3 separate regions of the Homo sapiens genome follow, and regions 1 and 3 are each linked to region 2. Evidence: fine-mapped expression QTL. Tissue or cell type: whole blood. Region 2 holds a variant in brackets; each other region holds the start of a gene. All regions are shown on one strand. Distances are from middle to middle.

Region 1 (2,500 bases), 38 kb before region 2:
ATATAGCACAACTGCAAAGGGAGTCAAAGAAAAAATAATGGTCGTCTTCTCAATTAGTTCATCATGTTTTCATTGAAAAGGGCAGGGAAAATAACAACATGTCTATTTTGAAAGTGGAAACTGGCAGCTGAACTGTTACTTGATAAGTTTCCATAAGGAACAGGAAAAATTGTAAAGGGCCATGGCCAGTTCCAACAAAGGAATTCTATAACATACAAAACTTTTCTAAAACCAAGAATCAATTCTAATGAAAACAAGGACTCACCAGTTTTAGCATCCATGCAGAAGCTCGGCAGGTAGCAAAACAACCAAAGGTGCCCAAAAGAATAATGACGGTACCAGTAGCAATGAGCACGAAGGGGACATTGGTGGCCTTCTCATTTAAAAGAGAAAAGTAATTCTCCAGGCTCACCTTGCCCCAAATGCCAACTGCAAGAAGGATAACGCCAGTGATCTATGTGGGAATTCAGAGAATACAAACAGTTACGCACTGTGTACAGCAGCATCTTCAAATCACAACGCATGAGGTATTTAAGGCACAATAGGTGTAATATGCTGGGATACGGCAGACAAGGGGGAAGAGTAGAAGGGGTTAGGGGGGGATCTGCACACAAGAGCAGGCTGTGGACCAGGTATCTTATCAAAATTCTTAAAATTCATCTTTTTGTGTGTAAACACAAGCCCATGGCATATTTGCCCTAGGGATCAAAACTTCCTTAACTATCTTACTCCAACCTTAGGAAGAAAACCTTGAAGGGGAAAAAAAAAACGTGATTTTATGAGTTCCAGAAACTTCCCCCGTCCTCTCCAGGTAGGGATGGGCACAGGGTACAAAGGACTGGTACACAAAAGCAAGCCCAAGGATAGACTGGCGGGAGTGGAGGCATACCATACTTACCTGCGAAACACTCCTCTCTTACGAAGCAGTGAAAAGAAAGACACTATTATGCAAGTGAGCCCTCAAAGGGGCCGGGCAAGCCTTGCTTGCCTTTGCAAAGGTCCAGGGTCACCGTCTGCGTGCTCTGGGGGCTTAAGGCCCCACCTCGCCTCCCGTATCGAACTCGAACGCTGGTACGTCTGGGTCCCAGCTCAGCCTCTCGGCTGCCTTCGTCCCGCACTCCGACCCCAGCGCCGGCGAGATGCCTGAGCTCTTTGTTCGGGGCCCAGTCACTGGTCGCCGGCGTCGGGGTCCCAGGCGCGATGGCCGCCCAAACCCCACACCGTTCCCGACCTGAGCTCCCGCCGCTCAGGGTCACACCCCCCACAACTAAAAGCCCGGGATCCCCTGCCGGCCCCAGGCGCCTTCGTCTCTCACCCAGAAAATAAAAGTGTAGATTAGCAGAACGCTCTTGAAACAAGTAATGACTGGTTTAGTCTGCAGTCTCCGAGACGGGGACGCCATGACTAGCCCGAGACCCTGCACCACCGCACCGGGCGATTGGAACACAGAGAGCGAGACGCGGAGTCCCCGAGTCTCCCCGGAAACTGCCGAAAACTTACGAGCGTCCACAACTGAGAAGGGCCGGAAACACTGTACAATTTTGTAGAGGGTAAAGTATGGGAGGCTGTCCGGAAAGTGGCAACAATTTCAGAGCGCCCCCTGCCGAAGGTTACCGAAAACTATATACAAAGGTTCTAGTGTCGGAAATTTCATAGGTCTTCAAGTGGAGCTTTCTTCATTGTTTTTTTTCTATCCTAAGGAATCTTTCCCGCCCCCCACCCCTCCCCTCTCCTTATAACTTCACCATATTGTTTCTATCACCAGCAGAGCCCGCAGCGCTCTGAGATTGGGCCTCCCTGGCCCCTGGTGCCCTAGAGAGAAGGAAAAGAATGAAGAGGTTAAAAGCGACCTAAGAAAATACATGGGAAAATACCCACAAGAAATATATTTGCAAAAAGAAAGCGGATTGCAAAGCAATACATACAGTCACGTGTGCTTAGACAAAAACTGAAAGGAACAGTGAAATTTACCTCTGGTGGAATTAGGCTGATTTTTTTCTCACTTGTGTGCTTTTCAATTTGTGAACATTGTTTTATGGGTTAGGAAGGGGAGATGTGAATGGAGGAAAATAATCACCACTTGTTGAAAGAATTTCTAAGCTAGGTATTAAAGATAATAATGACTTTAGAATTTACCTGCAGGACTTTGCAAAACCCCAGTATTCCTCTCCTTTTTTATCCCCTAAGTAATTGGAAAGTTGAGGGAAAGTATTTTTACATAATAGTGAAATGTAAGTTCAGCTATTCGCTGTAAACTTTTAAAAAGAGAGAGTGCAATGGAAAAATCCCTGGTGAGTGTGACCTCCTCTTAAATGTTAAAACAGAAAGGCACTGTACATTCCAGCCACCTGGTTTTTCCCATCAAAACCCAGCTGATTACAGAGAGATTAAAACCTAATGTTATATATTGTGAATATATTGGTCTATGTTGTTACAACACAGGAGGTGCGTTAAGGTCTGATTTCTCAACTAAAGCGTCAGCTCTTTGAAGGCAGAGACT
Region 2 (2,745 bases):
TGGAGCAAAAAGGTCCCTTCTCCCTCTTCCCTCCAGGGAAATATGGGAACTGTGAGAGGCAGCAGGCAAGTTATGGGCAGAGGCAGATACAATGAGTTCATGTGGGAAATTTCTGGTCAGACTAGCTCTGTGGTTCCAAAGGCAAAGACTGCACCTTGGGCGAGATGAATGCCCTTCGTTGTCTTTATCACTAACACTTCAAATGGGGCAAGCCAGGACATACTAGCAGGTCAAAGGCCCAAACAGCGGAGGCCTACTACCTCCTGAACAGAGCTCCACCTGGACCTGACTCAAGGAACATTTATATGCAACTGAGGAGCTTTTGTTTCATTTCATTTTGAATAGTCAAGTCAGTCTTGCTTTCTTTAGGTAAAGTTTTACAGTAACCTCCTTTGTAGTCCTTTGAAGATGAGGATTTGAGAAATCCCAACTCCTAAAGTAGGGGAGAGACAGCAGCAGAATATGACCCACAGCCAGACCCAAAGGGGCTAGCCCGACCCCTGTATATATTGTACCTCTCTCTCTGCCCACCTCTCCCCCACTTCTCCCCACTGCCCCATTCTCTCTTATCCTGCCTATTCCTCTCCCCTATTTCTCTGTCTCTCTCTCTCTCACATACACACACACTCACTCACAAGCAGTACAGTCACTAAGTTGGCTAGGTAATATCCAAAGCATTCTGATTGTCCTACTTTTTGTAAATTGAACTTATTTAAGATATTTTAGAAGAGATGAGTCACGTCTTCCTTTGACCCTTCACCCATAACACACATACCATTCTCACAGGAGGCCACATGGTGCAGTAGAGTCAGACTTTGATTCAAAGCCCAACTCTGTCACGTGACAGTAGGCTTGAGTTTCCTCATCTGTAAAAAGGGAAGATTTCCTACTTCATAAAGTGGTTGGAGAAATTAAAGAAATAGTATATGAAGCCTTGCACATAAAAAGCATTTGATATATATTAATGCCCTTTTGCACAAGAGGTCAAGAATTGCTTGGGTTCTACCTAGAAATCAAGAGCCTTATTTCTGAGCTGGGTTACTTGGCACCTGTGTTATTTCTCTCTCAAAACTACATAATGGTAGGAGGAGTAAAAGAAAAAGTCCCCGCCTCCCAGAGAAATTGAAGGATCCAGAAAGAAGTGCTTATAGCAGGGAATGTCTCCCCTCACCTCCTGTATGAACATCTCTCTCCTTCCTCCAGTATAGGAGGGTCTGCAAAGCTAAAGGAAGAGTTCCTTTGTTACAAGATAGAAAAGTGGTGCCACTTTAAAGATGATTTCTCAGTGTTCTCCTTAGATACCAAATACAAAGGACGAGGGATCAAGCTCAGCGAAAGTATCAGGCATTTAAGGTATCAGGCAGCAATGCGGGGAAAGGTGAATTTTCTTCAATCAGCATAGGATGGTTAGGGAAGAGCATTTATCACTTTGGTTCTTATCCTTCAAGCCAGGGGAAAAGCAACAGTGAGGACATCAGAGACAAAAGCATTTATAGAACTAACAAACACAAACGTTTGACAAGTGAGAAAGCTTTATTAAAGCACACATACATGTCAG[G/C]GGGGTGGGAAACAAAAGAGCAAGTTACAGCCCGGGATCCCAAGTTATGCCTTCCATTACAATTGCAATCCACACCAAATCAATCTTTGAAAACATTCCTCCATTCGGTTCATACATACAGTAGAAACCACTGTGGCTGCCCTTAATCCAGTGTGCTTATAGGAAATCAGTTAGCAGCTGACTCTGTTGAAAGGGATTTCCTCTCTGCTATACACTCCTTCCACACACAACTTTGGGTAGAAACGCTTATGAGAATAGAAAGGTCAGTTTGATCAATGAGTACCAGAAGATGAAACTTAGCTCACTAGACCCTTCTTTGAAAAGCCTCAACACACTACACCCATGTAATATGTAGGTCAAATTTAGGAAACAATAGCAAAAACAGGAACTGAAAGCTCATCAAGCAGGAAGTCAGAATAACAGGGAGACTCTGTCTACATTCCCTTAGAGCCCTTAACAGTCCCCAGCCTGGAGAAACACTGGGCCAATTGAGATAACACTTGGCTCTTCTGGTTGACACAGTGGGATGTAGACCATGCTCTGTTTGATAACACACCCCAGACGCAAACACTAAGACAGATGTGGTACATGAGGATGAATATATCTCATCTTTCATTCGAGAAATGAGGAGCTCTCTCTCCAATGACTGCAGTATCAGTTTAAAATGCAGAAAATTCAGCATGGGCTGTGAGACACTTTACCCTCAGTCACTCTGGTCCTCTGAGATCAGCTAGAAGCTCTCACTGGGCATCCTCGTGATTTAGTCAAAATACATTATCTAATTAAAGTGCTTTTCAAAAGCAGCTCCATTATAAGAGTCCCCCAAAGGTCTAGTAAAGATATCTAGAACTGGAAAAAGCTTGGGAATTCTGTTAGCATTTCAAAGAAAAGCATTAGACCAAAGCAAGGTGGAAACTGCTTAAAAACTAGAAAAGTTAAATTTAAAAGCCAAGTTCCAGAAGTTTATCCAGGTAGAAAATAAGTTAAAAGCATAAATTGGAGAGGAGAAAGAGGAAGGAACTACTCACCTCTCCCCAACATTCCTGTCTTTACTAACCAACCCTGCTTCCCAGAGCCTTAAAACCCAGACTGGTCCTAATGCGAAAGGTAGCCAGGGCTTCCTAGGGAAGTAGGAACAATGATAGCAAGACAGAAGATAAAAAGTTGTTTTAAAAGCTGTTTTTAAG
Region 3 (2,500 bases), 58 kb after region 2:
AGGGCCTCACAAGCCAAGTTGGTGGTGCTTTTCTACTAGGGTGCTAAAAACCAAACAACCAAAAACGCAGAAAACTTCATCAAGGCCACGTCTCTGCATTAAACATTGTTCCCACAGCGACAAAAGTCTTAAGTCATTAATACCTCAATATTAATAGATTTATGAGAGGTGGGGGTGGGGAGCTTAAAGAGCAGAAAATAAGCCAGTTAAATATAGGAGGTCCAGGATGTACAGAAGACTCATTTTTGCCACAAATATACAAGGTCTAGGGTCAACCCTGCCAAGCACAGTACTCTGGAATTTTACGTCCTCTAATCCTGAAGAAGCAGGGTACTGGGGGAAGAAAAGCTTGATTAGAAAGTCACCACTTTTCAAGCCACCAGAATTCTAACCAAATGATTTCACCACCCCAAATCCCACCTCATTCAATGTTAAGGGTTGGAGGAACACCTTTTTCTGCCCCATTACAAACCAACACAGGAGACAGAAGCATTCTGTGCCCCTTCTGAGATCTCGGGGACCCTCCTCCAGTACCAGATCTCTCACAGCCTGCTTGAAGAGCGGCAATATAAAGCAGCTCCACAGCACACAGCCAGGTCCCCAGCCCCAAGCGCAGAGGGAGCCCACTGAGGCAGGACTCCAGCCAACCAGCCTCCAGCCTTTACCTGTGGCTGACTGGCCAACGCCAGAGAAGCCGCGATGTCGTAGGTCCGAAGAGAGTGCGGGTTAGCGACCCCGCTCGACGGCCGAGCGCTGTGAGAGGAACCCACGAAAAGGTGACTGGACGCCTTGGAGGGCGCAGTTCCCGCTAGGAGCTCGGCCCCGCCCCCGCCCCCAGGGCCAGCTCTCGGGAGGGGCACCAGCTCGGGCTGGCGGGAAAAAGCCCGGGCACTCCCCGCGAGGGGAGCCGAAGAGGAGAGGGGAGGCGGCTCCCAGAGGGGCACAGACCGCATTAGTGCTGGGTGGGTCAGGGAAGGGGCCAGAAGAAGCCCTGGAGAAAGAAAAGTGGCCGGGAGGGACCGCCCAAGCAGACGGGAGTCCAAGCCTGGGGATGCGGTCGGGAGAGGCGGACGGGGAGAGGGGAGACGCGGTCAGCTAGGGAGAAGGAAAAATTGGGGGACCAGAGAGCGGGTAGGGAAGACGCACGACCCCGAGATGGGGGTGGGGGCGCTTCAGCAGCGAAAAGGAGCTGGGGGTCCAGAAGGAGCACCGGACCGAGGGCGAGGGGCCGGCCGCTGGCTGTTGACCTACCTGTCACTTGCAACAGGTGCCTCCAGAGATCGAGAAGTCCCAGTGCCGGTTTCAAGGGAGGGTCTCCGGCTCCGGGAAGATCGCAACCCAGCTCCGGCAGCCGGCCCTTCTCACCCTCCCGGGAGGCGGAAAAAGCTGCAACTTTCCCTGGAGCGGGGAGGAGCTGGACTCTTAAAGGGGCCGCACAGCGCCCCGGGCTCCTTAGCAGGGGGCCACTCAGCCCAAAAGGGAGCTCTGGGACCCAAAGCCTTGAGACACAAGAGGAATGTCCTTCCAGGTTAGGAATGGGAGCCTGGGGACTGAGGATAGGGGTCTAACACTAGACGTGCCTCCTCACCCACTTACTTCCATCTGTTGGTCACTCTCTTAGACGGTGAAATCACCTGTCTCTTTCGTTCAGCTGAGTCAAAAGTTGTCAAATTGTCTCACACTTCTAAGAAGATAAAAGAGTATGAACTATCTAATTTGAGTAAATAAAATATAATACCATTCTGATCCTTTGACTTGTGGCCTTTTATGGCAAATAAATGTCTGTCTAAAATAGAAACGTTTTGGGCAAAAGCGTAGACTAAATTCATACATACACACTCAAGGACACAACTGGTTAAAATATCCAACTCACTAGTAATCAAAGAAAAGCAAATTAGAACAATAATGAGATTCTTTGGCAAAGATATTTTTTATTTTTTAATAACACTTAATGATGACAAAGTAGCCACCAAACAAGCTGTCTTAATTGCTGATAGCAGCATATGTTGGTTAAAAACCCTTTTAGAAAGCACGTGAGCAATATGTATCAATAGACTTGAAAATGTTTATACCTACCCAGTAATTGCAGATTCCTCTCCCTGCCTCTCCCATCCCTCTCCCCCTCATTTCACATCAGCAATTAAACATGCTCAAGTATCTACCATCTTAAAAAAAGAACCTCCCTACACAGGAGGTCCCTCTTCAGGTCCTCTTTATGGGCAAATGTATTGAAAATGTACTTCACAGGTGAAATTGCAATTTTTATTCCCTTACTTCTCATTCATTTCTTAGCTCTCAGCAGTCTGGCTTCCTTCCCCCACTGAAACTTCTCAATGAGATACACAAACAATGACCCTCAGTGTCAATAAATCCATAAATAAGTAAGGTATTTTTGGTCCTTATTTTGCTTGACTTCTCCCCTACATTTAACACCGTTAACCATTTCCTCGTCCTTGAAACTTTCTATGGCATCTATGACATTTTACTCTTTTGCTTTTCC

Evidence for each region. PIP is the estimated chance that this variant, and not a neighbour inherited with it, causes the effect.
Region 1: TSPAN6 starts here. The variant in region 2 is fine-mapped to the expression of TSPAN6 in whole blood (TOPMed, PIP above 0.99). The same link has a PIP of 0.9 or more in T cells, blood mononuclear cells, esophagus muscle, gastroesophageal junction, lung and pituitary.
Region 3: it holds the start of SYTL4, and the variant in region 2 is fine-mapped to the expression of SYTL4 in whole blood (TOPMed, PIP above 0.99). The same link has a PIP of 0.9 or more in blood mononuclear cells, caudate, esophagus muscle, gastroesophageal junction, nucleus accumbens and putamen.

The regions. Positions count from the first base shown.
Region 1 is chrX:100,635,293-100,637,792 of GRCh38, forward strand. TSPAN6 (tetraspanin 6) reads right to left here and starts at 1,514. Exons shown (of 8, transcript NM_003270.4): 1 at 1,316-1,514; 2 at 266-454. The coding sequence starts at 1,402. RefSeq lists enhancers at 478-1,093, 1,094-1,709.
Region 2 is chrX:100,672,977-100,675,721 of GRCh38, forward strand. SRPX2 (sushi repeat containing protein X-linked 2) reads left to right here. Exons shown (of 11, transcript NM_014467.3): 11 at 1-2,745. SYTL4 (synaptotagmin like 4) reads right to left here. Exons shown (of 20, transcript NM_001370165.1): 20 at 1,515-2,745. Among named protein-coding and RNA genes, the nearest start is that of SRPX2, 30 kb to the left of the region's middle. The variant G/C (reference allele first, on the strand shown) is at 1,559.
Region 3 is chrX:100,730,753-100,733,252 of GRCh38, forward strand. SYTL4 (synaptotagmin like 4) reads right to left here and starts at 1,369. Exons shown (of 20, transcript NM_001370165.1): 1 at 1,252-1,369; 2 at 666-753.